4 linked regions of the Homo sapiens genome follow. The protein of the gene in region 1 purifies or fractionates together with the protein of each later gene. This does not show direct contact. Each region holds a gene or a part of one and is shown on either strand. Other genes may lie near its edges. The genes, in order: DNMT1, CHD4, MTA1 and EHMT2.

Region 1 (7,019 bases):
GCAGGTGCCTGTAATCGCAGCTACTCGGGAGGCTGAGGCAGGATAATCGCTTGAACCCAGGAGCCGAGATTGCACCGTTGCACTCCAGCCTGGGCAACAGGAGCGAAACTCTGTCTCAGAAAAAAAAAAAATTTTTTTTTTTAGAGATGAGGGTCTTGCTTTGTTGCCCAGGCTGGTCTTGAACTCCTGGACTGAAGCAATCCTCTGCGTTGGCCTCCCAAAGGGCTGAGATTACAGGCGTGAGCCACAGGGCCCGGCCATTATTCCTCAAGAGTTCTTAAAAGTGGATGCTGCAGGAGTTAACTGCCAGGAAGCAGGAATTCCTGCTAAGGTCTGCTGCTTGCCAAAGCCTTTCCCTTCAACAGGGGTTGCCAGTAGGCCACTGGCTCAGGGGCTCTGTTGGCCCTGTGCAAATATTTTGTTTGGCTGAATTGGAATACCATTAGGTGAGCCTTACAATCCACCACTGACCCTGGGTTCCACATTTCTTTACACTCAGATTGCTTCACTGTAGGCATTGGAGTTTTGGAGGACTGCTTTTGACCATGTGGTAGACATTGAAATTGTAGTTTATATGACTCACTCCACAGACTTTTTTTTTTTTTTTTACATTTTGAAAATATTTCATTAAATGAAAAATAAACATGGTATCCAACAGTACTTGAAACTTAGATTTTTTTTTTTTTTTAATTGAGGCAGGGTCTTGCTCTGTGGCCCAGGCTAGAGTGCAATGGTGTGATCTCAGCTCACTGCAGCCTCCGCTTCCCGGGTTTAAGCAATTCTCCTGTCTCAGCTTCCCAAGTAGCTGGGATTACAGGTGTGCACCACCACGCCCAGCTAATTTTTCTTTTTCCCCCTCGAGGCTGAGCCTTGCTCTGTCGCCCAGGCTGGAGTGCAGTGGCCGTGATCTCGGCTCACTGCAACCTCCACCTCCCGAGTTCAAGCAATTCTCCTACTTCAGTGTCCCAAGTAGCTGGGATTACAGGCGCCCGCCACCAAGCCCAGGTAATTTTTGTATTTTTATTAGAGACTGGGTTTTGCCATGTTGACCAGGCTGGTTTCAAACTCTTGATCTCAAGTGATCCACTTATCTTAGCCTCCCAAAATGCTGGGATTACAGGTATGATGGTGTCCAGCCGGTTCATTGTTTTTATTTTATTTTATTTTATTTTATTTTATTTTATTTTATTTTATTTTATTTTATTTTTGAGACAGAGTCTTGTGCTGTCGCCCAGGCTGGAGTGCAGTGGTGCGAACTTGGCTCACTGCAACCTCCCCCTCCCGGGTTCAAGTGATTCTCCTGCCTTAGCCTCCTGAGTAGCTGGGATTACAGGCATGTGCCACCACGCCCGGCTAACTTTTTCTTATTTTTAGTAGAAACCGGGGTTTACCGTGTTGGCCAGGCTGGTGTTGAACTCCTGGACTCAAGTGATTCGCCTGCCTCAGCCCCGCAAAGTGTTGGGATTACAGGCATGAGCCACCGTGCCTGGCCTTTTAATTCATTCTTAAGCCTGCTCTCAGACAGCTAGGCTTGCTTCTCCACAATAAAGAGTGTTGAATTTTGTCGGTGTATCCCGCATGGTGCCATTATAACACTGAAATTAGTGATTATTTCAGGGTCTGTTACCAGAGCGTGTCTGCCGTATTCACTGTATCTGCAGCTTGGAGCACAGTAGACTCAAATGCTTGCATGCCAGCTCTTCCCCTGTACAGCCTGGATTAACACTGATGCTAGCAGACTCCTTTGCACAACTGATTAGCTTTCGTAACTACCACAGCTTTCTTACTGCTAGTCATTCTGTGATGGGATTAAGCTAGGTCTTGAACTCCTTAACTCCAGTTCCTTGGCTACTACTGAGTACATACTGAATAAGGCAAAATTGACTTACCTCTTTTGTTTTGCTCCCCTGTGGTAGAATTCTAGGGGTACAGACTGCTGGGTTTCAAATGCCGCCCTACTTGCCAGCCGTATGGCTAAGTTATTGAACTTCTTGGTGCCTTGGTGTTTCATCTATAAAAAGGGGGTGGGGCTGCCTGCTCGACAGGGGTGTTAGGAAGACTGAGCTTATCAGTACAGATATGTTGAGAGCAGCACCTGTCCAAAGCCCTTCATCACTGGTTATTACGTGGTACTGTGTGTACAGTGGGGATGCTGTGGGTTTGGTTCCAGACCACTGCAGTAAAGTGAATCTAGCAAGAAAGTGAGTCACACACACATTTTGGTTTCCTAGTATGTGTAAAAGTTATTAGACTAGGCCGTGTGCAGTGGCTCATGCCTGTAATCCCAGCAGTTTGGGAGGCCAAGGCAGGAGGATCGCTTGAGCCAAGGAGTTCAAGACTAGTCTGGGCAACATAGGAAGACCCCCCCCATCTCAAAAAAAAAAATAAAGCCAAAAGTGGTGGCATGCACCTGGGGTCCCAGCTACTCGGGAGGCAGAGGTGGGAGGATCACTTGAACCCATGAGGTCGAGGCTGCAGTTTGCCATGATTGTGCCACTGCACTCCAGCCTGGGTGAAGGAGTGAGACTCTGTCTCAAAAAAAAAAAAAAATCAGCTGGGCGTGGTGGCTCACGCCTGTAATCCCAGCACTTTGGGAGGCCAAGGTGGGCAGATCACGAGGTCAGGAGATCGAGACCATCCTGGCTAACACGGTGAAACCCCGTCTCTACTAAAAATACAAAAAAAATTAGCCAGGCATGGTGGCACACGCCTATAGTCCCAGCTCCATGGGAGGCTGAGGCAGGAAAATTGCTTGAACTTGGGAGGCGGAGGTTGCAGTGAGCCGAGATCATGCCACTGAACTCCAGCCTGGGCAACAGAGCGAGACTCCGTCTCAAAAAAAAAAAAAAAATCATCTGAGTCTTCAGCGATTCATAATCTTTTTGCAGGTGGAGGGTCTTGCCTCAAACTTGCCGGCTTAAAGGACATACATTTATTACCTTATGCAGGTCAGAAATCTGATGTGGGTTTCACCGGATGAAAATCAAGGTGTAAGCAGGCTGCATTCCTTTCTGGGGGCTCCAGGGGAGAATCTGTTTCCTATTTTGGGGTGTTGGCAGAAGGTGGTAGTTGTAAGACTCAGGTCCCATTTTCTTCACTGGTTCTAAACTGAGGGTCGTTGCCCGCTTCTGGAGGCGGTCTCATCCCTCGGCTCATGCCCCCTTCCTCTACCTTTAAAGTCAGCATTTGCGGGTTGCATCTCTCTCTGACCCGTCCTCCAACGTTGCCCGCTCTCTGCAGCTAGAAAGGTTCTGTGTTCTTAAGGGCTGAAGTGATTAGATTGGGCCCACCCCAGATAATCCAGGATAATCTCCCCATCTCAAGGTCTGTATTCTTAGTTACATCTGCAAAATCGCTTTGGCCACGTAAAGTAATATATTCACAGGTTCCAGGGATTAGGGCATGAACATTTTTCGGTGGGTCCACTCTTTTTGAGATGGAGTCTCGCTCTGTCACCCAGGCTGGAGTGCAGTGGCATGATCTCGGCTCACTGCAACTTCTGCTTCCTGGGTTCAAATGATTCTTGTGCCTCAGCCTCTTGAGTAGCTGGGATTACAGGCGTGAGCCACCAAGCCCGGTTAATTTTTGTATTTTTAGTAGAGATGGGGTTTTGCCATGTTTCCCAGGCTGGTCTTGAACTCCTGAGCTCAGGTGATCTACCCGCTTCAGCCTCCCAAAGTGCTGGGATTACAGGCATGAGCCACTGTGCCCAGTGGGTCTACTCTTTTGCCTACTGCGGATGCCTTCTTGGGCAGCCCTGCTCCAGCTGCCATGCAGCCGGCCTGAAGAAGCTGGTTTGACAGAGACTTGTAACTTGTCTTGCATGGTCCACTATATTTTATTTTTAGAGACAAGGTCTTGCTGTGTCACCCAGGCTGGAATGCAGCGGCACAATTATAGCTCACTGGGCTCTAGTGATCCTCCTGCCTCAGTCTCCTGAGTAGCTAGGACCACAGGTGCATGCTGCCACACCAAGCTAATTACTATTTTTTGTTTAGGCAGGGTCTCTGCTGTGTTGCCCAGGCTGGTCTTGAATTCCTGAGCTCTATTGATCCTCCCGCTTTGGCTTCCCGAGTAGCTAGGCCTATAGGCACATGCTAGCACACCCAGCTAATTACTAATTACTATTTTTTGTAGAGACAGGGTCTCGCTGTGTTGCTCAGGCTGGTCTTGAATTCCTGGGCTCTAGTGATCCTCCCGCCTCAGCCTCCTGAGTAGCTAAGACTATAGGTGCATGCCACCACACCCAGCTAATTACTATTTTTTGTAGAGACAGGTTCTCGCTGTGTTGCCCAGGCTGGTCTCAAATTCCTGGGCTCTAGTGATCCTTCCGCCTCGGCCTCCTGAGCAGCTAGGAGTACAGGTGCGTGCTGTCATACCCAGCTAATTACTGTTTTCTCGTAGAGACAGGGTCTCACTGTATTGCCCAGGCTGGTCACAAATTCCTGAGCTCTAGTGATCCTCCCGCCTCTGCCTCCCGAGTAGCTAAGACTATAGGTGCATGCTACCACAGCCAGCTAATTATTCTTTCTTGTAGAGACAGGGTCTCGCTCTGTTGCCCAGGCTAGTCTCGAATTCCTGGGCTCAAGTGATCTTCCTGTCCTGGCTTCCCGAGTGTAGAGATTACAGGCATGAGCCACTGCGCCCAGCCATGGTCTGCTGTATTTCAGACGAGCATTTCTGGCGTAGAGGTGTTAGAGTAATCTAACATTTTATAATTTCTTCCTATCCAATCTATACTAGATACCTCTGCTGGGTTAGTTTTCTTAACACGGCTCTGATGTCATTGGTTCTACTTCCCCTTGACTGCTTTGGTGTTTGTTAACTATGGAACAAGATGGATAAGTGTGATGCTTTTGCCCTCCCTCCGACTGTCCCCAGCCACCTCTCTGGAGGTGCCTTTCCCTCCCTGTATGTGGCCAGTCTCACGTTTGTTTCTTGTGTGTTTCCAGAACCAGCCACTTCTCAATGGTGCCCCTGTTTGAGCAGCTTCCTGTGCCCGGTTCACACAGAGCTGTCAACTTCTTCCTGAGGCTGTTATACCCTTTCTCTTGGGAATCCCGCAGGCGTGAGCTGTATTTGCCTTATTCCTCTGTGGTTGTTTATATATATCTTTTTTTTTTTTTTTTTTTTTGAGACGGAGTTTCACTCTTGTTGTCCAGGCTGGAGTGCAATGACGTGACCTTGGCTCACCGCAGCCTCCACCTCCCGGGTTCAAGCGATTCTCCTGCCTCAGCCTCCTGAGTAGCTGGGATTATAGGCATGTGCCACCATGCCTGGCTGATTCTGGATTTTTAGTAAAGACGAAGTTTCTTCATGTTGGTCAGGCTGGTCTCGAACTCCTGACCTCAGGTGATCCGCCCGCCTCGGCCTCCCAAAGTGCTGGGATTACAGGCATGAGCCACCGTGCCTGGCCAGCTGTTTATATATATCTTATCTCCCCTCTGCAGAGGGTTCATCTCTGAGGGAAGCACTAGGAAGGAATCATAGGGTCTCAGGCTGGGCACTAAGCCGGCATTCTGAGTCCTCTGCTCCGTCCTTCACGGCTGTCTGCGACCCTCCTGGCTTCAGCAGGTGTGATCGGTGTCATCACAGTTTTACCAGGGAAGGGATGTCGCTAAAGTTACCCTCCCGCCAGCTCCTCACTGCCTGCCTGGGATCCCACCTGCCACTCTGGGGCCAGGCAGGTTAAATCCAGTTTCTACTGGATGAAACATTCTAGGGGTTTTGAAGGTTTCTCTATTCTCTTTGCCAGGCTAAATATCCCAGTTCATATGAGGGGTTGAAAGAAAGCAGACCCATTCTGCAAGGACACCTTGGTCTCCGCAATCAGTTGAACCTTGTCCTTCACACCCCAGGCAACCTCGGGATCAGGGGACTGGCTGGCTTGGTCGAGGTAGAAGCCATGTCCTTCCAGTTTTCTCAGCGGCGTGACTGAGAAGTCAAGTGTAACGCTATTACCACAGCGTGTGTGCCTCTGGCTGGAAGTACCAGTTTCTGTAGCCCTCCTGACTTAAGGCTCTCCTTGGACCCCAGTTGCTACAAGGGTAGAATGACTTTTGCCTGGAAGAGGTTCCTTGTGCTCCTGGAAATCCTGATGTCAAAGCATCTTTTTTTTTTTTTTTTTTTCTTTTGAGACAGGGTCTTGTTCTGTTGCCCAGGCTGAACAGGCTGGATTGCAGTGGTACCATCATAACTCACTGCAGCCTCAACCTCCCAGGCTCAAGCGATCCTCCCACCTCAGCCTCCCAAGTAGCTGGTACCACAGGTGCACACTAACCACACCCAGCTAATTTTTACATTTTTTTTGTAGAGATGGGATCTCTCAGTGTAGCCCAGGCTGGTCTCAAACTCCTGACCTCAAGTGATCCTCCTGCCTTGGCCTCCCAAGGTGCTGGGATTACAGGCATGAGCCACTGCGTCTTGCCTGGCCTTGTAGCACCTTGAGTCCAAGTGATACAGTATATATAATATACAGTCTATATTACCACTGTGTTTGTAGGGTGCTAAGTGTCTCTTCTACAGAGCAGTCTTTTTTTTTTTTTTTTGAGACAGAGTTTTGCTCTGTTGCCCAGGCTGGAGTGCAGTGGCATGATCTTGGCTCACTGCAAGCTTCACCTCCCGGGTTCACGCCATTCTTCTGCCTCAGCCTCCTGAGTAGCTGGGACTACAGGCGCCCACCACCACGCCTGGCTAATTTTTTGTATTTTTAGTAGAGGCGGGGTTTCACTGTGTTAGCCAGGATGGTCTCCATCTCCTGACCTCATGATCCGCCCACCTCAGCCTTCCAAAGTGCTGGGATTACAGGCGTGAGCCACCGTGCCCGGCCCTACAGAATGGTCTTTCCTAACCACACAGCAAGTCAGGAAGTCCCTGCCTAGTGACACCTACATCTAATCACTTAGCTCTTTGCCTGGAGCAGGGCCTGGCATTCAGCAGGTGCTCATATGTGAGCGGCGCTGGTGGGGAATCAGGGCCCGCATGACCCAGAGCAGCTGTTGTAAGACATGGGTCCAGCA
Region 2 (7,019 bases), on another chromosome or scaffold:
AATTTTCTAGTTTTGATCATTGTACTGCAGTTACGTAAGTTATTATTAAGAGAAGCTAGCTAGTTGAACAGTATACATGAACTCTCTCTGCTGTTTTGCAACTTTTTTCTAAGTCTAAAATTAAAATAAAAAGTTTTTTTTTTTTAAACAAGGAGTAGTGATACTGAGCACAGTGGCTTATGCCTATAATCTCAATACTTTGGGAGGCCAAGGCAGGAGGATTGCTTGAGCCCAGAACTTTGTGATCAGCCTGGGCAACATGGCAAGACCCCATCTCTACAAAAAAATTTTTTTAGTTAGCTAGGTACAGTGGATCAAGCCTACAGCCCCAGCTAGTTGGGAGGCTGAAGCAGCAGGATCACTTGAGCCTGGGGGTGTGTCCAGGCTGTAGTAAGCCATGATTGTGCCACTGCTCTCCAGCCTCGGCAACAGAGTGAGACCCTATCTCGAATAAACAAAACAAAACAGGCTGGGCGTGGTGGCTCGTGCCTGTAATCCCAGCACTTTGGGAGGCCGAGGTGGGCGGATCATGAGGTCAGGAGATCGAGACCATCTTGGCCAACATGGTGAAACCACATCTCTACTAAAAATACAAAAATTAGCTGGGCGTGGTGGCACACGCCTGTTGTCCCAGCTACTTGGGAGGCTGAGGCAGGAGAACTGCTTGAACCCGGGAGGCGGAGGTTGCAGTGAGCCAAGATCGTGCCGCTGCACTCCAGCCTGGGCGACAGAGCAAGACTCCATCTCAAAAAAAAAAAAAAAAAAAAAAAAAAAAACCTAGTAGCGTCTACTGAGGCAGACAAGTCTGCTAGTAACTTGCTATTTGAGCTTGAACAAGTCCTGACCCTTTGCTTGCCCTCGAGATACAATGCTTTCTTCTTTCTAGCAGAAAGAACAAATACCCCAAAAGAAAAAATCTCCTAGGAATAGTCCAATACATTCGTCCAATTGAGACATTCAAAAGCTTTACTCCATCTCAAATGACAAAGTCCCAAAAGAACTACACAGAAAAGGAGATGCACAAGAAGTTACAGTCCAAAGATATAAGCAAATGAGGATTCCTGAAACTAAACAACTCCTTCTCTCTCACCATTGAAGCGGTCAATGGCCTCTTGCCGCATGTTCCCAGTGATTCCACCATCGATGCGTTCGTATTTATAACCTTCATGTTCCAAGAAATCCTCTAGCAGGTCTAGCATCTTGGTCATCTGCAAAAGAAGCACGGTTTAATTATGGAAGAGTCAGATGGTAATCCCTTTCCTTAGGTCACTAAGGGTTGTCTATGACTGTTCCCTAAAGCTCCCAGTCCACATGATACCTGGGAAAAGATGAGTACACGATGCCCACCCTCCTTAAGGTTCTTGAGCATTTTCTGCAGCAGCAATAATTTCCCAGATGCTCTGATTAGGGCACTGCCATCATACATGCCATTAGGCATCTTAGGAGCTTCCTGAGAACAAATGCAAAGAAAAAAGTATTAAAAGAAAGCCCACATGGAGAAGACCCAACCCAGGGAGGAACAGGAGATGGCACTACATACCATTGCAGCCACAGGGAAGAGGTATGGATGGTTGCAGCACTTCTTAAGATCCATCACCACATTCAGCAGAGACACCTGGTTGCCACCACCTCGGGCATTGAGTGCTTCAAAATTTCGAGTGAGGATGTACTTGTAGTATTTCCTACATGGGCAAGGTAGAAAGACAGGTTAGACTTGAGAGCCTTTCAATGACTAATAATGCAGTGCCAACAACTGAGATCTTTCTTCCAACACATCCCACTTTGGAACTAAGGACACCTAACGCACAAGCACTACCACCACCACCATTTTAAATAAGGAAAGGTATAACCTAAAATAAGTAAGAACTATGCGCTCCAGCGCCCTAGCATCAGGTTTCTTCAGGCCTTGCTTGCTCCTGTCACCAGATGCCTTGAAGCTGAGTGGGGGAGGAATAGGAAACACTCTGCAGACTGGCAGATGTCTAAATGGAGTCTGCTTCTGTCCCTCCCAACTCACTTCTGCATAGGGCTCAGCTCCACACGCACAATTAGTTCTGTCTTGGAGGGCATGTTCTTGAACACATCGGCTTTGAGCCGCCGCAACATGTGCGGCCCCAGCATGTCATGCAGTTTTTTTATCTGGTCCTCCTTGGCAATGTCAGCAAACTCCTCCAAAAAACCTTCCAAATTGCTTCAGAAAGAAAAAGGAAAAAAGTTATTGGAGAAGGAGAAAGGAAGAAAGAAAAGTGATACAGGAAATGGGCAACAGGAAGAATGAGAGGCACAATTATGAGCCGATTACAGATAAACACATACTTACTGGAACCTCTCGGGGGTGAGAAAGTTGAGCAGATGAAACAACTCTTCCAGATTGTTTTGTAATGGTGTCCCAGTCAGCAACAGCTTGTGCTGGAGTGAGTAACCATTCAATACCCGGAAGAACTGGTGAAGCAGATGGAGAAAGGTGAAATCCAATGAAAACAGAGCTCTAGCAAATCTCTACAAAATTTCAAGTTTTTCACTGCCCAATAGTTAAGCATCCCACTCCTCACATTCTTTTTAAAGGCCTGGCCACCAAGGGCTGTCACATACAAGGAAGGAAGGCAGAGACAATTTTCCCCTCTCCTCTCCATCTACAAGTTTTCCCCTTAATGAATTGGTAGTACTAGAAAAAACCCAAAGTGGGGGCTCCAACATCCCTCCCTCAGCCCTCACCTTAGACTGATTGTTCTTCAGCCGATGGGCTTCATCCACGATGAGGCAGGCCCAATCAATAGAGCCCAAAATAGCCATGTCAATGGTGATCAATTCATAGGATGTCAGCAGCACATGGAATTTCACAGATGCCTCTTTCTGCACATGAAGGCAACTTGGTCACTACTAGTCAGTTCCTCTGTGTAAGCACAACCAGGAGACTGATGGAATGTTTTCCTCCTCCCAGGGTTACCCTTTTGCCTCACCAGGGACCAGATCACAAGGAGGTAAACTAAGCCAGAAGCCACAACTCTTTCTCTAGGGTGGCTTCCCTCCCCTGAGATACCTTCATGCGGGAGGCCTTCTTGCCACCACGAATGGCATTGTCTTCAAAGGAGAACTCATTCTCTCGGATGATGGCACGGCTGTCCTTGTCACCCACATAGGTTACGACATACATGTCTGGAGCCCACATTTCAAACTCCCGCTCCCAGTTGATGATGGTAGAAAGAGGGGCGCTCACTAGGAAGGGGCCTTTGGAATGACCCTTTGAGAAAAAAGAGGAGAGTCAGGACTGAGGGCCCCAGCACACTGCAACCCCAGCGAACACCCACCACCCTGCTGCCCCCTCAAGCTGAGCCAAGGACTGACACACCTGCGCTGCTGCTCCTGCTCTCACCTTCCTCTATACAAGTGCCCAGCCCACTCCTTTCCAAAAACCCAAGGTCCCACCATAACTACAAGTCTTACCTCTCCCATTAAGTCTTTATATACTTTTTTTCTGAGACGGAGTTTCACTCTTGTTGCCCAGGCTGGAGTGCAATGGCGCAATCTCAGCTCACTGCAACCTCCACCTCCCGGGTTCAAGCGATTCTCCTGCCTCAGCCTCCCAAGTAGCTGGGATTACAGGCGTGCACCACCACATCCGGCTAATTTTGTATTTTTAGTAGAGACGGGGTTTCGCCATGTTGGTCAGGCTGGTCTCGAACTCCTGACCTCAGGTGATCCACCAACCTCGGGCTTCCAAAGTGCTGGGATTACAGGTATGAGCCACTGCGTCCAGCCAAGCCTTTCCATACTAATTCTACTCATAATTCTACTTCCCTCAACACACAATCATTCCCCTAGAACTGATACTCTATGGATCCACTGCTAATCCTACCCAGGGCTCCATGCCCTCAAATCTTCCGCTGTGTACATGTGTTTATCCACTATCACATTTATCTACTATCTACTAAACACATGTGTACATGTGTTTATCTATTATCCACAGTGTTCTTGAAGGTCAGAGACCAATTTTTTTATTCCCTTATCTCTCTACTCAGTGTAAGTTAAGGCTTCAAACACAAAACACCCACACAAAAAACTATCCACCCCAGATTTCCTTACCTCCTTGTAAAGGGAATACAGGAAGACTGCTGTCTGTACAGTTTTCCCAAGGCCCATCTCATCAGCCAAGATGGTGTCAGTGCCCTGAGCCCAGGAGAAGCGCAACCAATTCAGGCCCTCCATTTGATAGGGGTGCAGGGTTCCACCTGTAGCATCCAGGTACTCTGGCTGTCGCTCATACTTCACTGTTGGCTGAAGGATGAAACAGAGAAGTCAAGAGCTGGCAAGGAACTCCCCTCCTCCCCTAATAGAGCAGCTGCTTCCTCCTCACTAGTCTTCACGGATCCTCTTGGGGAAGAGCTCCGGAAAATTCGGAGGGAAGAGATCCCCTATGATTACTGCAATTTCATGTTCAGTTTAGGGTCCTCCAGGAAACAGGGCTTAACCAGACCTGATTTTGATCCTACAGATCACTGAGGAAAAGCACGTCACAGACTCCCTACCAATACAATAATTCTACTAGTCAGGATCCACCAGGTAAATAATCGTTATGTCCCTCTTAGATTCATCTTTTTAACTTTAATCACCCTCAAATTACACTGTACAAACAAAACCCAGAGGAACTGAGCCTGAATTAAGCCAGATTCCTATGTAAGTGCATAAAAGCTAGGCTATGTGGCCCCTCCCCCCAGACAACACTTCTTCAATCATTCAAAATATACCTCCTTTTTTTTTTTCTGATGACAAAAGAAGAAAGTAATCCTAGTGCTTTCTGATATATAGAGATGTGGAGAAGTGGGGAAGCCGACTTTGTGAAGTAATCTCAGCTACAAAGTTACTATCTGCATTTCATTACTTAAGAGTACCATCATTAGACTGCAGCAAAGATACATTGTCCTACCCAACAAACTACAGTCCCTTCCACCCCCACTCACATCAACTGTTGGCGTTTCTGGAGGCCTCTCCAACTTCCGAAGCTTCACCTTCTTGAGCTTCTTGCCTGGTCGGCCTTCCTCACCCCTCATTAACTCCCTAAAGAAGAAAGACATCACACAGCTGCCCAAAATCCTTTTCTATAGAAGAAACAACTTGGCCAGGCACAGTGGCTCACACCTGTAATCCCAGCATTTTGGGAGGCCAGCACTTTGGGAGGCTGAGACGGGCGGATCACCTGAGGTCAGGAGATCGAGACCAGCCTGGTCAACATGGTGAAACCCCGTCTCTACTAAAAATACAAAAATTAGCTGGGCATGGTGGCAGACGCCTGTAATCTCAGCTACTCGGGAGACTGAGGCAGGAGAATTGCTTGAACCCAGGAGGCGGAGGCTGCAGCGAGCCAAGATCGCACCATTGCACTCCAGCCTGGGGGACAAGAGCAAGACTTCGTCTCAAAAAAAAAAAAAAAAAAAATCAGCTAGGTGTGGTGGCGTATGCAAATAATCCCAGCTACTCAGGAGGCTAAGGCAGGAGAATCGTTTGAACCAGGAAGTCGGAGGTTGCAGTGAGTCAAGATCACGCCACTGCACTACAGCTTGGTGACAGAGCAAGACTCCATCTCAAAAAAAAAAAAAAAGAAACAACTCTATGCCTCACCCAAAATCACTCACCTGTGATTCCAATAGCTCTGCTTGAACAGGTCGTAATCCTGGATCTCCACATCCTCACTCTCCCAAGAAGCCTGATCGTAAGGTAAGTCCCGCCACTTGATCAAGTAGTGGACGTGGCCCTTCTTGTCCACACTGCAAGTCCAGGAGAGAAAACCCTCAGAGCCAGAAAAGGCAACCCTCCTCACTTCCTCTCAAAAACTGGCAATACCGTTTGTTTCACACCAGACCTCTAGGTATGCCACAGATCACACGTTTTCAGAGCCTCTACTGTACCAGTCTCTGACCAAAAATTATCTCTAATTTATACTTTCCTAGAGCTCAAACACCAGAATTCAGTCAGTTAATAATTAACATAGAGTGTTGGCCGGGTGCAGTGGCTCACGCCTGTAATCCCAGCACTTTGGGAAGCTGAGGCAGGCAGATCGCTTGAGGCCAGGAGCTCAAGACCAGCCAGGCCAACATGGCGAAACCCGTCTCTACTAAAAAAAAAAAAAAAAATTAGCCAGGCATCAGGCCGGGCGCGGTGGCTCACGCCTATAATCCCAGCACTTTGGGAGGCCAAGGCAGGCGGATCACCTGAGGTCGGGAGTTCAAGACCAGTCTGGCCAGCATGGAGAAACCCCGTCTCTACTAAAAATGCAAAAATTAGCCGGGCATGGTGGCAGGTGCCTGTAATCCCAGCTACTCGGGAAGCTGAAGCAGGAGAATTGCTTGAACCCGGGCGGCGGAGGTTGCAGCAAGCTGAGATTGCGCCACTGCACTCCAGCCTGGGCGACAGAACGAGACTCCATTTCAAAAAAAAAAATTAGGCAGGCGTGGTGGCACACGCCTGTAATCCCAGCTACTCTGGAGGCTGAGGCAGAGAATCACTTGAGCCTGAGAGGCGGAGGTTGCAGTGAGCTTAGATCATACCACTGCACTCCAGGCTGGGCCACAGAGCAAGACTCTGTCTCAAAAAATATAATAAATAAATAAATAAATAGGCCGAGTGCGGCGGCTCACGCCTGTAATCCCAGCACTTTGGAAGGAGGAGGTGAGCGGATCACAAGGTCAGGCGATCAAGACCATCCTGGCTAACACAGTGAAATCCCGTCTCTACTAAAAATACAAAAAAAAAAAAATTAGCCAGGCATGGTGGCGATGGCCTGTAGTCCCAGCTACTCGGGAGGCTGAGGCAGGAAAATGGCGTGAACCCAGGAGGCAGAGCTTGCAGTGAGCCAAGATCACGCCACTGCACTCCAGCCTGGGTGACAAGTCTGTCTCAAAAAAAAACAATAATAATAAAATAAATAAATAAAGATAATAACATGAAGTGTCAGGCGCAGTAGCTCACGCCTGTAATCCTAACACTTTGGGAAGCTGAAGCAGACAGATTGCTTGAGCCCAGGA
Region 3 (7,823 bases), on another chromosome or scaffold:
CAGGGCACTCCATGGGGAAGAAACAGGCCCTGTTCCCTCCCTGCTCACCACTTCACCCAGCTCAGCTGGCACAAAAATACTGCCACCACACCTTCACCCTGCCTAGCCCAACCTGGCAGGGCCTCGGAGTAGCCTGCCAGCTAAAATACGGGTTGCCCAGATAACTGTGAATGTCAGATAAGAATCTTCTGGGACAAGTATGTCCCATGCCATATTTGGGACATACTTACACTAATAAATTTCTGTTTATCTGAAACTCAAATTTGCCTGGGCGTCCTGTACTTTTCTTAACTAAATTTGGTGCCTCTACACACAAGGTCCCTGGGGTGGGGGGGCACAGGAGCAAGCCCCTTCCCAGGCTGGGTCCCTGCCGGCATCTCCCACAGGCCAGGACTGGCCACCCAGATGGAGCCCGTGCCAGGCAGCCGGCGACAGACGGACAAAGGCTGCTCAGGAGACACTGCACACCTTCCTCTTTCTTGTCTGGGGGCTCAAGAATCCAGACGCCCACCTCCCCGAGCGAGCACCAAGACAGGAAGCCAACCTGCAATGCCCAGCCCACTGCGACCACAGGGCTCTGCCGGGGTCCTGCCGGAACCCAGGGTTCCGGTCCAGAAGCCAGGGATAAATGCCGCTTCTCCTATAGGGACAGTCAGAGTAGAGAGGGGGAGGCCTACAGTCTCACCTGCAGGGAGAGGAAGTCCTCGGGGCGGGCACGTGGGGGGCCTGACAGCTCCGAGCACACCCGGCCACAGTGACCACGGACTGCACACGCAGAAGCAGTCTGGATCCCACGCGTGGCTGTGCTGCCAGCAGACAGCACCCAACCTCCCATGCTCCTCATCACAGGAAAAGAGACCAGCAGCATCTCTGCCAGGCATGGTGGGGCCCCTCCGCCACAGCCTAGGAGTCCAGGCCACCCACCCTCACAGCACTGGAGTGCGTGGGTCAGTGAGGCCCTGGGACGGGCCTGCGGGCACAGGGGGACAGAGGGTTCGGGGAGGGCGGCGCAGCCCCACGAAGGGCTCCTCCCAAGCCTGTGTGGGGCCCAGGGGAGCTGCACCTCCGGGATGGGACAAGGCAGGGTCCTGGCTTTCATCAGCCACAGCACAGCTGCCACAGGGCACAAAAGGACGGCTGAGAGACGAGGTCCTCACCCACACCATGGGGAAACCGAGGCATGGGAAGGTTGGAGGGGGGGCAGCCAGGCTGGCGCCAAGATCACAGGCAGGCAGGCCTGAAGGCCGAGCAATGCAGCCACTAGGAAGGCATGAGTTGGGGTCGGGGTGTCCCCAGCCCTAGAGCCCAAAGCTGCCACCACTCCCCACCCCCAACATGGGTGGGGGCAGGGAGAGCTCTTCTTGGGACCAATCCCAAAACCATGCGCAGTGGGCCCGGCTGGAGCCCAGGCAGCAGGCATCCTCTCTGCCAGGGTGAGAAACTGGGCCCTCATGTCAGGCTGGAAGGGGGGTCTCCAGGTGGGGAGAAAGAACAGGAAGGAACAGGCCCCTCCCTCGAGGGACCCCGCACCCAGGCTGCTCCCTGAGCGTGGGGTGGGCTCAGCGCACCTGGGTCCACACAGGGACCTGGCAAAGCTGTATGAGGCTGTGGGAGGGGCTGCCGCTGGATGGGGTACAGGCCCACCGCCCCTCTGAGAGGACAGGGGAGGCCCAGAGCTGCTGATGCGGACTGACCGCCCATCTCACAGACGGGATGTAGGGGGCTCCCACCGTCCCCAAGGTCACAGGACTGGCCGGCCAGACCACACGGCGTCCAAGGCAGCAGAAGCCACGCTCGAGAGACACAGAGTGTTCTGGGCACTCGGGGTCAGGGGCATGGGGATCAAGCCAGAGCGGGAGTGACCCCAGCTCCCTCCAGCAGCGCAGGCTGCAGGTGGGAAAGGTAATGAGCACCTGCCCGAGAGGGTCACAGGCAGGGAGGGGTCTCAGAGTCCTGGGGAGGGAGGCGCTGATGGAATGATGGAATGCACACGACCCCCCACCTTCCTGTGAAAGACCCCACGGAGTCCCAGGCACACGAAGGAGGGCAAGGCTCAAAGCTGCAGGCCCGGGGGGCCCGAGCAACAGGAGGCTGGGCCCACGGAGGAAGCCCCTGCCCAGGAGGCCCTCCGGCCTCTCCCCAACCCTTGCAAAGCGCCTCCCGAATGGGCTGAGGTGAGCGAGAGGCAGGGAAAAGTTTGGGGGGACTTAGAGGCGTGCTCGGGATGCTCGCTCCCTGCTGAAGACCCCCTGAGGGATCCCTGCTGGGGGAAGCCCCGGGGCCAGGCTGCAGGAGGGCTCTAGGGAGGAACGTGGCCCCTCACCGGGGCTCCCCATCCCCAGAGGGGATGCACCGGAGTCCCAGCACAGGGCCGCGGGCCGGGGGAGACCCCACAGCCCCAAAACTCCTGCTCCCAGACCGGCAGCCGGCGCCTCCCAAGGCCACGTGCTCCCGCTGGGGGCTCCCGGCCCCGGACCCCCGGATGTCCCGCAGGCCCCGCGCCCCCCCGCCACCCCCGCGGCCGCCCCCTCGGCCCCAACAGGTGGGCCGCCCCCCACCCCCGGGCCGCCGAGCCCCGCCCGCCCCCGATGGGGCCGACCCGCGGGGCCATTTTGGGTTGGGGTGAGCACGGCGGGGGGCGGTTCGGGAAGGAGCCGGGGGCCGCGAGGGCGGGCGGGGGGCGCGGGGCCTGCGGGGCAGAGGGGCGGGGGAGGCGGCAGCGGCGGCGGGTGGGGGCTGCGGGCGGGTCGGGGCCGGGCATAAAGGCGGTGCGGCCTTACCTCCGACCCTGTACATGTTGGCGGCCATGTCCGGGCCGGCGGCGGCGGAGGGGCCCGGGGCGGGCGCGGCGCTCGGCGCGGGCGGCCGGGAAAATGGAGGCGCGATGGCGGGGGCGGGGGGCGCCGCAGGCGTTTAAAGGGGCCGCGCTGCTGCCGCCGCCGCCGCCGCCGCCGCCGCCGAGGCCGCCGAGGCCGCGCAGGGACGGGAGGGCCGCGGCGCGGGCGGGAGAGGAAGAGGAGGAGCGGCCGCGGGCGGCGGGGAGGGGCCTCGGGCGCCGCCGCCCACCGCACGGGCCGTTACCGACCCCGCGCCGCCCGCGGCCCGCGCGCCCCTTCCCGGACAGTTCCTCTCGGCGCCCCCGAGTCCTCCCCGCGCGCCGCTTCCCGGGTGGGCCCTTCCACCAGAACCCCCTGGTAGATCCTCCCCTGGTGCCCTGGGGGTAGAGGGGAGATCCTCCACAAGGGCCATTTCCCTGGTGATCCCTCCCTGTGCCCCACAGGTGAGTCCTGCCGTAGCTCTCCAGGGGTTCCTCCTGATGCTGGGGTCCTCCGGCATTCCTCCCTGAGCCCCCCAAGGGCCCTGAAGCTCAGCGGCCCAGCCCTGGCCTCGGGGTCCCCACCCCACACCTCCCTTCCAGGCCTAACCTTTGCCCCCGACACCAGGCAGGGCGTGTCCTTGGCCTTCGCCGCCCAGCCCGCGTGGCATCTCTGGACAGGTGGTCGTGCGCGCCTTGGTGTGGGCAGGCTCCGTAGCCGGCAAAGCCTCCCTGAACCGTGACCTGGTGAGAAGGCCGCAGAGGAGGTGCCTGTGCCCAGAGGCCACCTCCAAAGACCCCACCTGAGGCTGGAACCCAGCGCCTGCTGACCCCGCCAGCCCCAACAGGGCTGGAGTCCAGGAGCGGCCGTGCTCTTTCCGCAGTGAGGCAGCTGCCTTCTCTTCCCACCACCTGTCAGGATGCCTTCCCGTGTGTGCTTGTGCACAGGTCTAAGGAGAGGAGAGTCCAGTGAGTGACCCAGACGCCCCAGCCAGGAAGAGCATGAGGTGCGAAGGGGGCTTCCCAGATGGAGAGAAACAGATGGTCCCAGAGTGGCTTGGAGACAGGTGCAACATCAGTGTTGGGGGAGGTGAGCAAAAGGAGCTGTCTCGGGGTTCCAGGCTGCTGATGTGAGCAGCACCGTGGGTCTCTGTCCTGCCTGCTCAGATGCTGGAGGGAGCTGACATCTACTTGGGACATCCCTCTCTGTAGGACATGGAGCGGAGCGTTCAGGGCTATCAGGAGGGAGCCCCGTGGCCACGGTGCAAGATCTAGGCAGGCGGGACAGACATGGTCAGGATGCTGGGGACACAGCATGGGGAATCCAGCACACAGGACACCATCCAGGTGGGTAGGAAACAGCATGTGCTGGGAGGAAAGCCAGGTGGGGGTCCCAAGGAGAGCGGTGGCCACAATGTCATGGCTGCAGAGCAGACCAGTAAGGAAAGCCCCACCAGGGTTAGCACAGGGCCAGGAACCCGAGCTGCAGGGCGGTGCTGTCTCTGGGGAGAGAGGGCTATGGGTCCCAGGACACATCCTGCGGGCTGGGCTGCAGGGAACAGGAGCTGGCTTGCTGGTGATTGGGAGGGAAGAGCAGCCAGCCAGCGGCCAGGTGCAGGAGAGGGGCAATGACAGACAGGCAGCGTCTCTCCAGAAGGAAGGTGGGGCTGCTGGCCTCCCCTGTCCTACAGCCCCAGCCTACCTCTGTCTCCTCAGCAGGAAAGCAAAGCTGCAGCCTGAGATCTCCTTCCACCAACTCCTGGCATGGCCAGAAAGTTAGCCAGAAACACCAGAAAGTGCCAGGCAGCTAGGAAGCATGGGGAGAGCCCCCTGAAGCTGCGTGTGTAGTGCCTGCTTCCGCTGCCATCCCAGAAATGGACGAGCTTCACCCTGAGAACCCAGCCACACCACTGGGACACATCCTGACAGTGACATGCACACTCTTCCCTGGCCCCAGCCTGGAGAGGAGCCTCCTGAAGACACCAGCCTTTGCTCCTTCTCCCAGTGGGAGTGGAGAGAACTGACTGCTGGAGTGGAGACAGTCAAGGCTGTCCTTCTGAGGGAGCACAGCACAGGGTCTGGTGTCCCAGGGAGGCAATCTGAAATTCAAGCCAGGCCTCCCCAGCGGAGAGGACACACCCCTCACCATGCAGAGTGACGTTTAGTAAACTCTCAAAAGAGAGCACAGAGCCCCACTCCTCCAGCCGACCCATACTCTGCCTCCCCACTCCAGACCAGTGAACAAGGTGGATTGCCCTTAAGCCAGCTCAGAGGCAAAGTCCAAAGACCTCAGGTGAGTCAAACAATAAAAACAAAGAATTAAGAAGAATCCAGCTGGGTGCGGTGGCTCACGCCTGTAATCCCAGCACTTTGGGAGGCTGAGGCGGGAGGATCACGAGCAGGAGGTCGAGACCATCCTGGCTAACACGGTGAAACCCCGTCTCTACTAAAAATAGAAAAAATTAGCTGGGCGTGGTGGCGGGCGCCTGTAGTCCCAGCTACTCCGGAGGCTGAGGCAGAAGAATGGCGTGAACCCAGGAAGCGGAGCTTGCAGTGAGCCGAGATCATGCCACTGCACTCCAGCCTGGGCGACAGAGCGAGACTCCGTCTCCAAAAAAAAAAAAAAAAAAAAAATCCATCCACTCCATCCACTTAGTAGCAGAGCGAATAGACATTCAGGAAAGAGCTTTCACGTCAGAAAGCACTACAGAAGTAGTGGCATATCCCCGGAGGCTGAGGTGGGAGCATTGCTGAGAGGTGGCACGTGACCACATCCATGTCATTCAACAACAGAAAAACAAGTCATCGAGGGTGTGAGGGGCCGGTGAGAAACCCAGTATGGAAGAAAACACAACTGGGCTGAGCGTGGTGGCTCACGCCTGTAATCCCAGCACTTTGGGAGGCCAAGGCAGGAGGATCACCTGAGGTCAGGAGTTCGAGACCAGCCTGGTCAACATAGTGAAACCTCATCTCTACTAAAAATACAAAAAAATTAACTGGGTGTGGTAGCGCGTGCCTGTAGTCCCAGCTACTCCGGAGGCTGAGGCAGGAGAATTGCATGAACCCAGGAGCCGAGACCACACCACTGCACTCCAGCCTGGGGGCGGCACAGTGAGACTCCGTCTCAAAGAAACAAAAATAAAAAATAAATAAATAAATAAATAAATAAATAAGAAAACGCAACCAAAGAAACAGAAGAGGACTCCACAGGACTTCTTTCAGAGCTTCATAGCAGCATGAATTCAACAATCAGGAATTCAAATGCTTGACGACAAAACAGCAGGATGGGAGGAAGAGTTAAGAGCCAAGCAAACCGGAAGCACCAAAATCGCACCGTGGCTGGATCAAGTCATAAACAGCAAAGGGCAGAATATCAAGTTACTTGGAGATGAAAGGCTTGAGATAATTTCAGAGCAAGACAAAGTGATTAACACAATAATTTACTCATTGATTATTTGTTAAACATCTACTTCAAGCTACAGGCCACTCTAGGCCTTGGAGGGTAAGGAAACAGCACCTTTGCCCTCAGAGGGTTTGCAATCTAGCAGGGAGGGGAACATAATAAAGTGTATAAAACCAGGGCTCTGGCTCTGAAGTTCCAGCACTTTGGGCAGGTCACTTGAACCCAGGAGTTTGAGACCAGCCTGGGCAACATAGTGAAAACCCATCTCTACTGAAAAATATAAAAATTAGCGGGGCGTGGTGGTGCATGCCTGTAGTCCCTGCTACTTGAGAGGCTGAGGCAGGAGGATAGCTTAGGCCTGAGAGGCATAGTTCGCAGTGAGCCGAGATAGCACCTCTGCACTGCGGCGTGGGTGGCAGAGCAAGACCCTGTCTAACAACAACAACAAAAACTGATCTTAAGTCCAGCCAGTAAAGATGTAAATCAAAACAAAGACTTTCAGTGGGTCAAATACTGGCGGTGAGCCTTGATCTTCTGGTAAGAAATGCCCTGCCAGGGGATATGGAAATGTCAGTGCCAGTTCCTCACCATTCACAGGCAGAAGTCAGCCGGTGCCGCCTCAGCCGAACCGTGCTTTGCTGCTGTAAACCAAACACACTCATCTCTTGATGTTTTTGTAATTTCTAAAAATAATCGTAGAAGACTTTTTTTTTTTTTTTTTTGGAGACAGGGTCTCACTCTGTCACCCAGGCTCAAGTGCAGTGGGCCTATCTCGGCTCACTGCAGCCTCGACTTCCTGAGCTCAAGCGATCCTCCCACCTCAGCCTCCCAAGTAGCTGGGACTACAGGAGAGCACCACCACGCCCGGCTGATTTTTGTATCTTCAGTATGGATGGAGCTTCCCTTTGTTGCCCAGGCTGTTCTCCAACTCCTGAGCTCAAGCGATCTGCCTGCCTTGGCTTCCCAAAGTGCCGGGATTACAGGCCTGAGCCACGGCGCCCGGCCATCGTAAGGAGACTTTTAAACTTGAGGTGAAGAAGCATTCATCTGCTTTTAGCAATTTTTTTCTTTAAATATTTAAAAGTCTATAAGTAGCAACTCGACACGTATTTCTGTATTTCCATTACATCCTTTTATCTCCCCATATACATTTAGAAATATCTGGGATAACCTTTAGGTAATGTTAACAGCTGTTATTCCAGGGAGGACACTGGGCGCGTTTTTAAAGCTGTATTCGTTGCTGTATTAATAGCAAGCGGTGTTTCTGCAAAGCCAAGGAAGGCGTTTCTCCAGCGGGGCCGCGTCGGGCATTGTCTGGTGCGCCGGGGAAGGCCGCGAACTACATCTCCCAGGCGCCCCGCGCCCCGTTCCGCGCCCCGCGCCCCCGCCCGCGCGGCTCCTGCTGTGGTGCCGGAGCGTCCTCGGCTCGGTCCGGAGCCAGCCGGAGTCACAATTCGAATCGGGCGTGGGAAGCCCGGGGGACCACGCGGCCAACCCTGGGCGGACCTGCGCGCCGGAGACCGCGTCCCCGGGAGCCCCCAAACGCTACCCCGCGCGGCCGCCCGTGGCGCTGCGGAGGCCTGCGGGTGGGGAGGCGCAGTGGCG
Region 4 (7,019 bases), on another chromosome or scaffold:
GTCCGGATGTCTCGGGAACTGAAGAAGGCGATGCGTGGAAATCGCAGGTCTTGGTGCAGCATGAAGACCCGGACGGGAATGATGTTGGGGTCACACAGGTGGTTGATGAAGCGGCTGATGTTGCCATAGTAACGGGCATCTATGCAGTACACCTCTCCATCCTGGGGCAGGGGGATGGCACTCTTCACATCTCCCCCGACCCTGCTTGCCCTCCCCACCCACTGACTCCCCAGTCCCTCCTCCCCAGGTTTCCATTTGCTGACTTCCCAGAGGCTCCTGAAAGCCAGCCCTGGGGAGCAGCAGGGTAAGGAGGGTCTCCTGCTCACCTTGTTGTCTAAGTCGAAGAGGTAAGAATCATCCTCTCTCACATCAGCCTCAGCATCAGAGATCAGCTCCCCGACATACCTGTGGGACAGGAATCCATGGTTCTGAAGGTGAGTGTGGGCTATTAGGAGGTGGCTCCAGGCCCCATCTCTCTTCACAAGCCTGTGGAATCTGGAATGGGCAGGGCTGGCAGGTGTGGGGAAGGGAAGGCCTGGAGCAGCAGTGGTGGGCAAGTGAAAGGGCAGCATTCCAGCCTTGACAGAGGAAGCCTTCAGTCAGCACAGAGACAGACAACAAGCTCTGTGGTTAAGGGGATTAATGTGTAGGGGCAGTTGGCCTGGGTGGGGAAGTTCGGGTTTGGACACAGAGAGGTTTGTGTTCCAGGAGCCACCCGGCAGGAATGGGCGATATGGAACAGGAGAGGGGCCAGGACTGCAGGAAGAGCCAGAGGTACAGGAGTGGCAAGGAACTCAAGGCATGATTCGGGGCAAGAGCACCCACACATATCTGGACACCAGAGGGAGGAGAGGAGCCAGCTATCTAAGGAGGGTGAGCAGACATGGGAGATTCAGACACACGGAGAGGACGTGGGTGGGAAGTGACTGTCAAGAGACAGCTTCAGCAGAGTGGGAAGGGCAAAGGCCGATTTTGGCAGGGACAGGCAGTGAGTGGATGGTGGGGAAACTGAGGCCCAGCAGGAAGGGGCTGCTTGCCAGAGAAGTTGAGAGATGACATGATGGAAAGAAACTGGATGGTCTGTTGAACAGGCAAGTATGGTTAGAGGACTATCTTTTTTAAAGGCCAAAGAATGGTCAGGCACGGTGGCTCACGCCTGTAATCCCAGCACTTTGGGAGGCCGAGGTGGGCGGATCATCTGAGGTCAGGAGTTGGAGACCAGCCTGGCTAACATGGTGAAACTCCGTTTCTACTAAAAATACAAAAAATTAGCCGGGTGTGGTGGTGCGCACCTGTAATCCCAGCTACTTGGGAGGCTGAGGCAGGAGAATCGCTTGAACCTGGGAGGTGGAGACTGCAGTGAGCCAAGATTGTGCCATTGCACTCCAGCTTGGGCAACAAGAGTGAAACTCCGTCTCAAAAAATAAATTAAAAAAAAAAAAAAAAAAGAGCCAAAGGAGACTAAAGTAAGATTGAGGGTTGTGGGATGGCAGCCAAGAGAAAGGGGGAGATTACAGATGCTGGGCAGAGAAAGAACTGATGGAGAGGGACAGGCCCCTGAGGAGGTGGACAGATAGGTAGCTGTTATCACCTCCACTCTACAGACAAGAAAAATAAGGCTCAAAGAGGTTAAGTAACTTGGCCAAGAACATCCAGAAGCAGAGAGGGGCTCAAACCCAAGTCTGTTTGTCTCCCAAACTGGCACTTTCTCCAGCTAGGAAGGGCGAGGAGGGGGTGGAGGGGAAGGTAGAGGGTGGAGGTGGAGGGGAGGGAAGACAAGCTCTGTGGTCTGGGCAGAGTGGAGGCAGGTGCCATTCTCAGCTGGGGGGATGGGGGTCAGAGGCGGCTGGCTGCTCAGCTGCAGGAATAGGGGTCAGAGGAGGCTGGCTGGAGAGTGGCCAGATGGAGACATGTGACTCATCAGGGCAGATGGCTGAGAGGGAGGCCTGGCAGTCAGCAGTGGCCATGTATCCCCTTCCCACCAGGTGTTAAGGTGCTCCCGGTGACTTACTCGCAGATGAAGGTCCCCTGTGGGATGGTCTGCAGGGCGCGGACCCCCCAGCCCATCTTGGCTGTTCGGTAGAGCTGTAGCCGCACCCTGGGGGTAGGAGAGATGGCGCTGTTGGGTGGAGGCCCTGGAAAAGCCCCAGGGGCAGGGAGGAAAGGGTGAGGTGGGGAGAGGGTGGGCTGTGGAGCAGGGCCTCACTTGATGCCACTCTGTACGACCCGGTTCTTGCAGTTTCTCCAGCATGAGCACGCCTGGTTACACTCGAAAATCAGCGGAGGCTCAATCTTGTTAAATTCCTGGAGCAATCGCCCATCCTAGGGTGCGGAGGGGAGGATAGTGGTTTCTCTGTGGGGCCCACCTCAGCTGCCCACCCAGGAACCCCAAGACTCTACAGAGACAGGGAAGTTGGGGTTGGGGAGGTCACACAGGCTCTGAGATCCGAGAGCACGAAATGCAGGAGCATCATCCCTGGTTTGCATAGACCTGGGCACACGCCCATCGCTGTCCCAGCCACATCCCAGGATTCCCAGGCCTTGCCCAGTCCTCTCAGTCACTTCCCCCACAGGGTAGGAGGTGAGGGACATGGTCCCAGGGAGCTGGTTTATTGGAGGCTGGCTCCTCTGAAGGAGGGGCCGGGTGTCTGTGGCCAAGGCAAGGGGCACGCACCTTGTCATACCAGCACCGGATGCTGAGCTGGCCGCACAGGCAGTTGGAGCTAGAGCAGTCGTCCACACACGTGCAGTGCTGGGGCGAGGAGGCAGAGGTCAGCTCAACCCCATGATCGGTCTGGGCCCCTCTACTCTTGATGCCCCCTGACCCCCTAACCACTGTCCTTTCTTTGGGGTCCATGTGTTACAACAGTGGGTGGTGATGGTCCTAGGGTGACGGGTAATCAGTATGGTGGTGTCCCCAGGGCTACTGGGAGCTCATATGATACCTTGCTGTGACCTAGGAAAAGGATCCCTCCCCTGGTGGGGATGCGACCCCACACCAGGGCTCCCTTTCAGCCAACCCTTCCTTGGCCAGGTGCCTTTGCTGGTTTGAAGCTTGTCCAACTGTACTTGGCAGCTCTCGGTGTCCTTTTGGGGAGGCCCCGGGCCCCCTACTCACCTGCAGGTGGGTGATGTTGCGATCGATGTTCATGGTGGACGTCTCGCAGTTCTCTGAGATGTACTTGTAATCCTCAGGGCAGGGCTCCCCATCCACACCGTTGACACAGGGAATGGGCACGTTCTCATAGCCCCGAGCCACGTCCCTGCAGAAGACGGGAAGAAGGGGCTGGGAAGCTGGAAAAGGGGGTGAGGAGCTACTCCAGGTATAAGGAAGAGAGTTGGGGAGGTTCCTGGGGCTGGGGGCAGGGGAGTAAGGTTGCCAGGTAAGATGCAGGACAGCGAGTTAACATAGAATTTTAGATAAACAAGAAATAGCTTTTTAGTATGTCCCAAAAATTACACAGGACATTCTCACACTAAAAAAGTATGCATCTGTGCATCTGAAATTCCAGTTTAACTGGGTGTCTTCTATTTTTATTTGCTGTATCTGGCAACCCTAGTGGGGAGGGGGCCTGTGGGTGGTTCTGGGGATTCAGTGGTGCATGGGGAGGGGTTGGGGAATGTTGTGAGGATGCAATGGAGCCTGGGGAGGGTATGGGTGGGGAGGAGGTGGTCTTGGGTGCAGAGAGGGGCCCAGGGCTCACCGGCAGATGATCTTCTCTGTGCGGATGGCCCGATTTCCCACCCCAAGTCGGAGCTTGCGGTTGAGTTGAAGCGCAAACCACACGTCGGAGCGCTCGGGAGTCAGGTCCCATGCTGTGTCCCCCTCTTTGTTCCGCAGCTCAGGGTTGGCCCCACGTGACAGGAATAACCTGAAGAGGGGACAGGATGCCCAATGCAGGGTCTGAGGCTGCAAGAAGTGGGGGCAGGGGCATCAAGGGCGGGGCAGGGGCTCACAGCACGCAGTCATGGTAGCTCTCCCGAGCTGCGATGTGCAGGGGGGTGTCCCCATGGTAGTTGACAGCATGGAGGTCACAGCGCGCATTCAGAAGGACTTCGGCGATGGCGGCGCTGCCCGTGAAGGAGGCCCAGTGCAGGCAGATGTTCTCCTCCTGTGGAGGTAGGAGGGGAACAGATGAGGTGCAGGCAGCTGGGCCCTTGAATCCAGCCTCCACCTTGCTCAGGGGCCTGGGGCTGCCCTACCTCAACCAAACGCTCACTCACGTTGTCAGTGAGGGTGACGTCGGCGCCCCGCGTCAGTAGCATGCGGATCACCTCGATGTGCTTGTGCTCTGCAGCCCAGATGATGGGCGTCCACCCCCCACTGTCCTGTGGGTGGGAAGGGAGTGAGGGTGGGGGCAGCTGGCCCTGCTCACCAAAGCAGCAAATGGTCAAGATTGGCTGTGTGTGTGAATCCCAGCTCCACCATTCACAAGCTGTGGGACCCTGGGTAAGTCACTTAACGTCTCTGGGTCGCAGTTTCTTCATCTAAAAAATGGGACTAGTAGGGTCGGGCGCGGTGGCTCATGCCTGTAATCCCAGCACTTTGGGAGGCCGAGGCGGGCGGATCACGAGGTCAGGAGATGGAGGCCATTGTGGCCAACACGGTGAAACCCTGTCTCTACTAAAAAATAGAAAAAATTAGCTGGGCGTGGTGGCAGGCGCCTGTAGTCCCAGCTACTAGGGAGGCTGAGGCAGAATGGCGTGAACCCGGGAGGCGGAGCTTGCAGTGAGCCAAGATCGTGCCACTGCACTCCAGCCTGGGCGACAGAGCAAGACTCCGTCTCAAAAAACAAACAAACAAAAATGGGACTAGTAGCGTCTACCATCTGATGCCAGAGAGAAAATAAAGTAATTGTTCTCTTTCCAAAAAATACAGCCAGGAGCTGGTCATGGAGGTGCATGCCTGTAGTCCCAGCTACTCATGTGACTGAGATGGGAGGGTTGCTTGAGCCCAGGATTTCGAGGCTGCAGAGAGCTATGACTGTCTGTGAACTGCTACTGTACTTCAGCCTGGGTGACATAGCAAGACCCTGTCTCTTAAAAGAAAAAACGAACAAAAATTTCCTAAGTCTGCCCACTCAAAAGTCCTAGAAGCAGCGACAACCCAATAACAATAAACACTCCTAGGAACATAGATTGTATTCTCTAAAAAATGCTTCTGGCCGGGCGCTGTGGCTCACGAGGTCAGGAGTTCAAGATCAGCCTGGCCAATATGGTGAAACCCCGTCTCTACTAAAAATACAAAAATTAGCCGGGCATGGTGGTGGGCGCCTGTAATCCCAGCTACTCGGGAGGCTGAGGCAGGAGAATGGCGTGAACCTGGGAGGCGGAGCTTGCAGTAAGCTGTGATCACGCCATTGCACTCCAGCCTGGGCAACAGAGTGAGACTCCGTCTCAAAAAAAAAAAAAAAAGTTTCCCATAAAGGAAGCAGAGTTTCTTAGAGAAATGGTGGATTCTGAGTTGGGGGCAGGAAATGTGCTGAAAGGTCAGGAGGCTCTCAAAGGCCACTGGGCCACTGGGTCATGTCACAGCCACAGAGGCCTCTTAAAGGGGCTTCTTCTGGACAATGATGGAATAATTCAAAGACTGAGAAGAATGCCAATAAATGACTAAAACACATCCAATGTATGACAACCCAAGAGTTAATAAAAAGCCTCACTGGACACTTTCAGAGATTAAGACAGGAACTGATTATTCTGAAACTTGATAAAGAGAAAGAAACGAGAAAGAAAAGAATGAAGAGAAATACAAATGAGGAAGAAGAAAGCAATGAGGACAGACACGAGCAGTGTGAGGTCAGATGTAGGAAAGGCGGCCCAAAGCCTGAGGCCAAGCCAAGGAACCCAGGCACCAGGGACCCAGAGGGGCTGGGCTGGGTGGGCCGCTGACCTGGGCGTTGACGTCCACCTGTCCTGTGCTCAGCAGCAGGCTGACCATCTCCAAGTTCCCGATTTTGGCTGCGTGGTGGAGGCAGGTGGAACCGTCCTCCTCCTGAGGGAGACACGGGCAAATGAGCCTTTGGGCTGGCACCCCAAACCTGGTCCCTGACTCCGGGGGCCACGCCCTGCTGCCTGCGCGCACACCTTGCTATAGACACAGCCACCACGCTGCACCATGTAACGGGCTACCTCCAGGTGGTTGTTCACCACGGCCTCCATCAGTGGCGTCCGCTGCTGTTTGTCCACTGCATTTATGTTGGCTCCAGCCTGTGAGGGGGCAGGAGGGCTGGCACCAGGGAGGCATGGGGCAGGGGAGGGGCCTAAGGGCCTGGTGAATGAGGCATGGGGCCGGGCCCGTGCTGACCTGCAGCAGCACATGGCAGATCTCCACGGAGCCCTTCTGGGCGGCTGCATGCAGGGGCGTGCGCTTGCTCTGCTGGTCGCTCTGGAAGTTGGGGTCCAGGTTGTCCACTGCGGGGAGAGCCCGCCACACCGGGAGAGGGAGGGACAAGTGGTAAGCAAGCTAGGGGGCAGGTGGCACTTCTTTCAGGAAGGCTTCTCAGGGCCCCAAGCTGGATCAGGGCCCCTCCTGGCATTCTCCGAGCTTGCCTCCACCACAGCATTTATCAGAATAAGGAGTCAAAGGCATCAGCTCTGCCTGAATTCAAACCCTGCCTTGCTTCTCAGTACCACTGTGCACTGTGCAAGGTCCCTAACCTCTCTGTGCAAGCCAAGGCTAACAGGTATAAGCACTCAGAACAGGACCCAGCACCTATGAGTCACCACATCCCCATCGTTATGGGTTACATGTGTCTTTTCCCCACCACACTAAGTCCTTCAGGGCAAGGACTGTGTCCTTCACGACTGTACTCCTGGCCCTGTACCCAGTGCCTGGTATATACATGAAGCTTGGTCAAGGTCTGCTGAAGGAATGGGTGGCACTCACACAGCATCAGGATCACCTTCTGCAGCTCGCCCTGCTTCACGGACAGGTACAACTGCCGAGGGTGGAAACGGAGCTTCTTCCGCCTGCCAAGGGAGCACGGGAGCGGGGAGAGAAGGGGAGCTCCTCAGAT

What was found.
Region 2: the proteins of DNMT1 (region 1) and CHD4 purify together in Homo sapiens (affinity purification with western blotting; 2 studies listed by BioGRID, with this or other methods). This does not show direct contact.
Region 3: the proteins of DNMT1 (region 1) and MTA1 purify together in Homo sapiens (affinity purification with western blotting; 4 studies listed by BioGRID and IntAct, with this or other methods). This does not show direct contact.
Region 4: the proteins of DNMT1 (region 1) and EHMT2 purify together in Homo sapiens (affinity purification with western blotting; 3 studies listed by BioGRID, with this or other methods). This does not show direct contact.

What each region holds. Positions count from the first base shown.
Region 1 is NC_000019.10:10,184,954-10,191,972, reverse strand, and holds part of DNMT1 (DNA (cytosine-5)-methyltransferase 1), read left to right. Parts: intron 1-7,019. UniProt on the Homo sapiens protein: Methylates CpG residues. Preferentially methylates hemimethylated DNA. Associates with DNA replication sites in S phase maintaining the methylation pattern in the newly synthesized strand, that is essential for epigenetic inheritance.
Region 2 is NC_000012.12:6,590,376-6,597,394, forward strand, and holds part of CHD4 (chromodomain-helicase-DNA-binding protein 4), read right to left. Parts: intron 5,763-7,019; coding exon 5,631-5,762; intron 5,056-5,630; coding exon 4,959-5,055; intron 4,276-4,958; coding exon 4,084-4,275; intron 3,242-4,083; coding exon 3,041-3,241; intron 2,854-3,040; coding exon 2,716-2,853; intron 2,443-2,715; coding exon 2,321-2,442; intron 2,192-2,320; coding exon 2,018-2,191; intron 1,683-2,017; coding exon 1,541-1,682; intron 1,451-1,540; coding exon 1,319-1,450; intron 1,209-1,318; coding exon 1,091-1,208; intron 1-1,090. UniProt on the Homo sapiens protein: ATP-dependent chromatin-remodeling factor that binds and distorts nucleosomal DNA. Acts as a component of the histone deacetylase NuRD complex which participates in the remodeling of chromatin.
Region 3 is NC_000014.9:105,415,021-105,422,843, reverse strand, and holds the start of MTA1 (metastasis-associated protein MTA1), read right to left. Parts: upstream 3,018-7,823; 5' UTR 2,809-3,017; coding exon 2,781-2,808; intron 897-2,780; exon of another isoform or gene 882-896; coding exon of another isoform or gene 686-881; intron 1-685. UniProt on the Homo sapiens protein: Transcriptional coregulator which can act as both a transcriptional corepressor and coactivator. Acts as a component of the histone deacetylase NuRD complex which participates in the remodeling of chromatin.
Region 4 is NC_000006.12:31,880,688-31,887,706, forward strand, and holds part of EHMT2 (histone-lysine N-methyltransferase EHMT2), read right to left. Parts: intron 6,973-7,019; coding exon 6,890-6,972; intron 6,415-6,889; coding exon 6,308-6,414; intron 6,211-6,307; coding exon 6,088-6,210; intron 5,996-6,087; coding exon 5,894-5,995; intron 4,369-5,893; coding exon of another isoform or gene 4,330-4,368; coding exon 4,225-4,329; coding exon of another isoform or gene 4,204-4,224; intron 4,113-4,203; coding exon 3,958-4,112; intron 3,873-3,957; coding exon 3,705-3,872; intron 3,518-3,704; exon of another isoform or gene 3,264-3,517; coding exon 3,119-3,263; exon of another isoform or gene 2,753-3,118; coding exon 2,675-2,752; exon of another isoform or gene 2,323-2,674; coding exon 2,207-2,322; exon of another isoform or gene 2,099-2,206; coding exon 2,012-2,098; exon of another isoform or gene 1,986-2,011; intron 874-1,985; exon of another isoform or gene 709-873; intron 435-708; exon of another isoform or gene 406-434; coding exon 327-405; intron 162-326; coding exon 1-161. UniProt on the Homo sapiens protein: Histone methyltransferase that specifically mono- and dimethylates 'Lys-9' of histone H3 (H3K9me1 and H3K9me2, respectively) in euchromatin.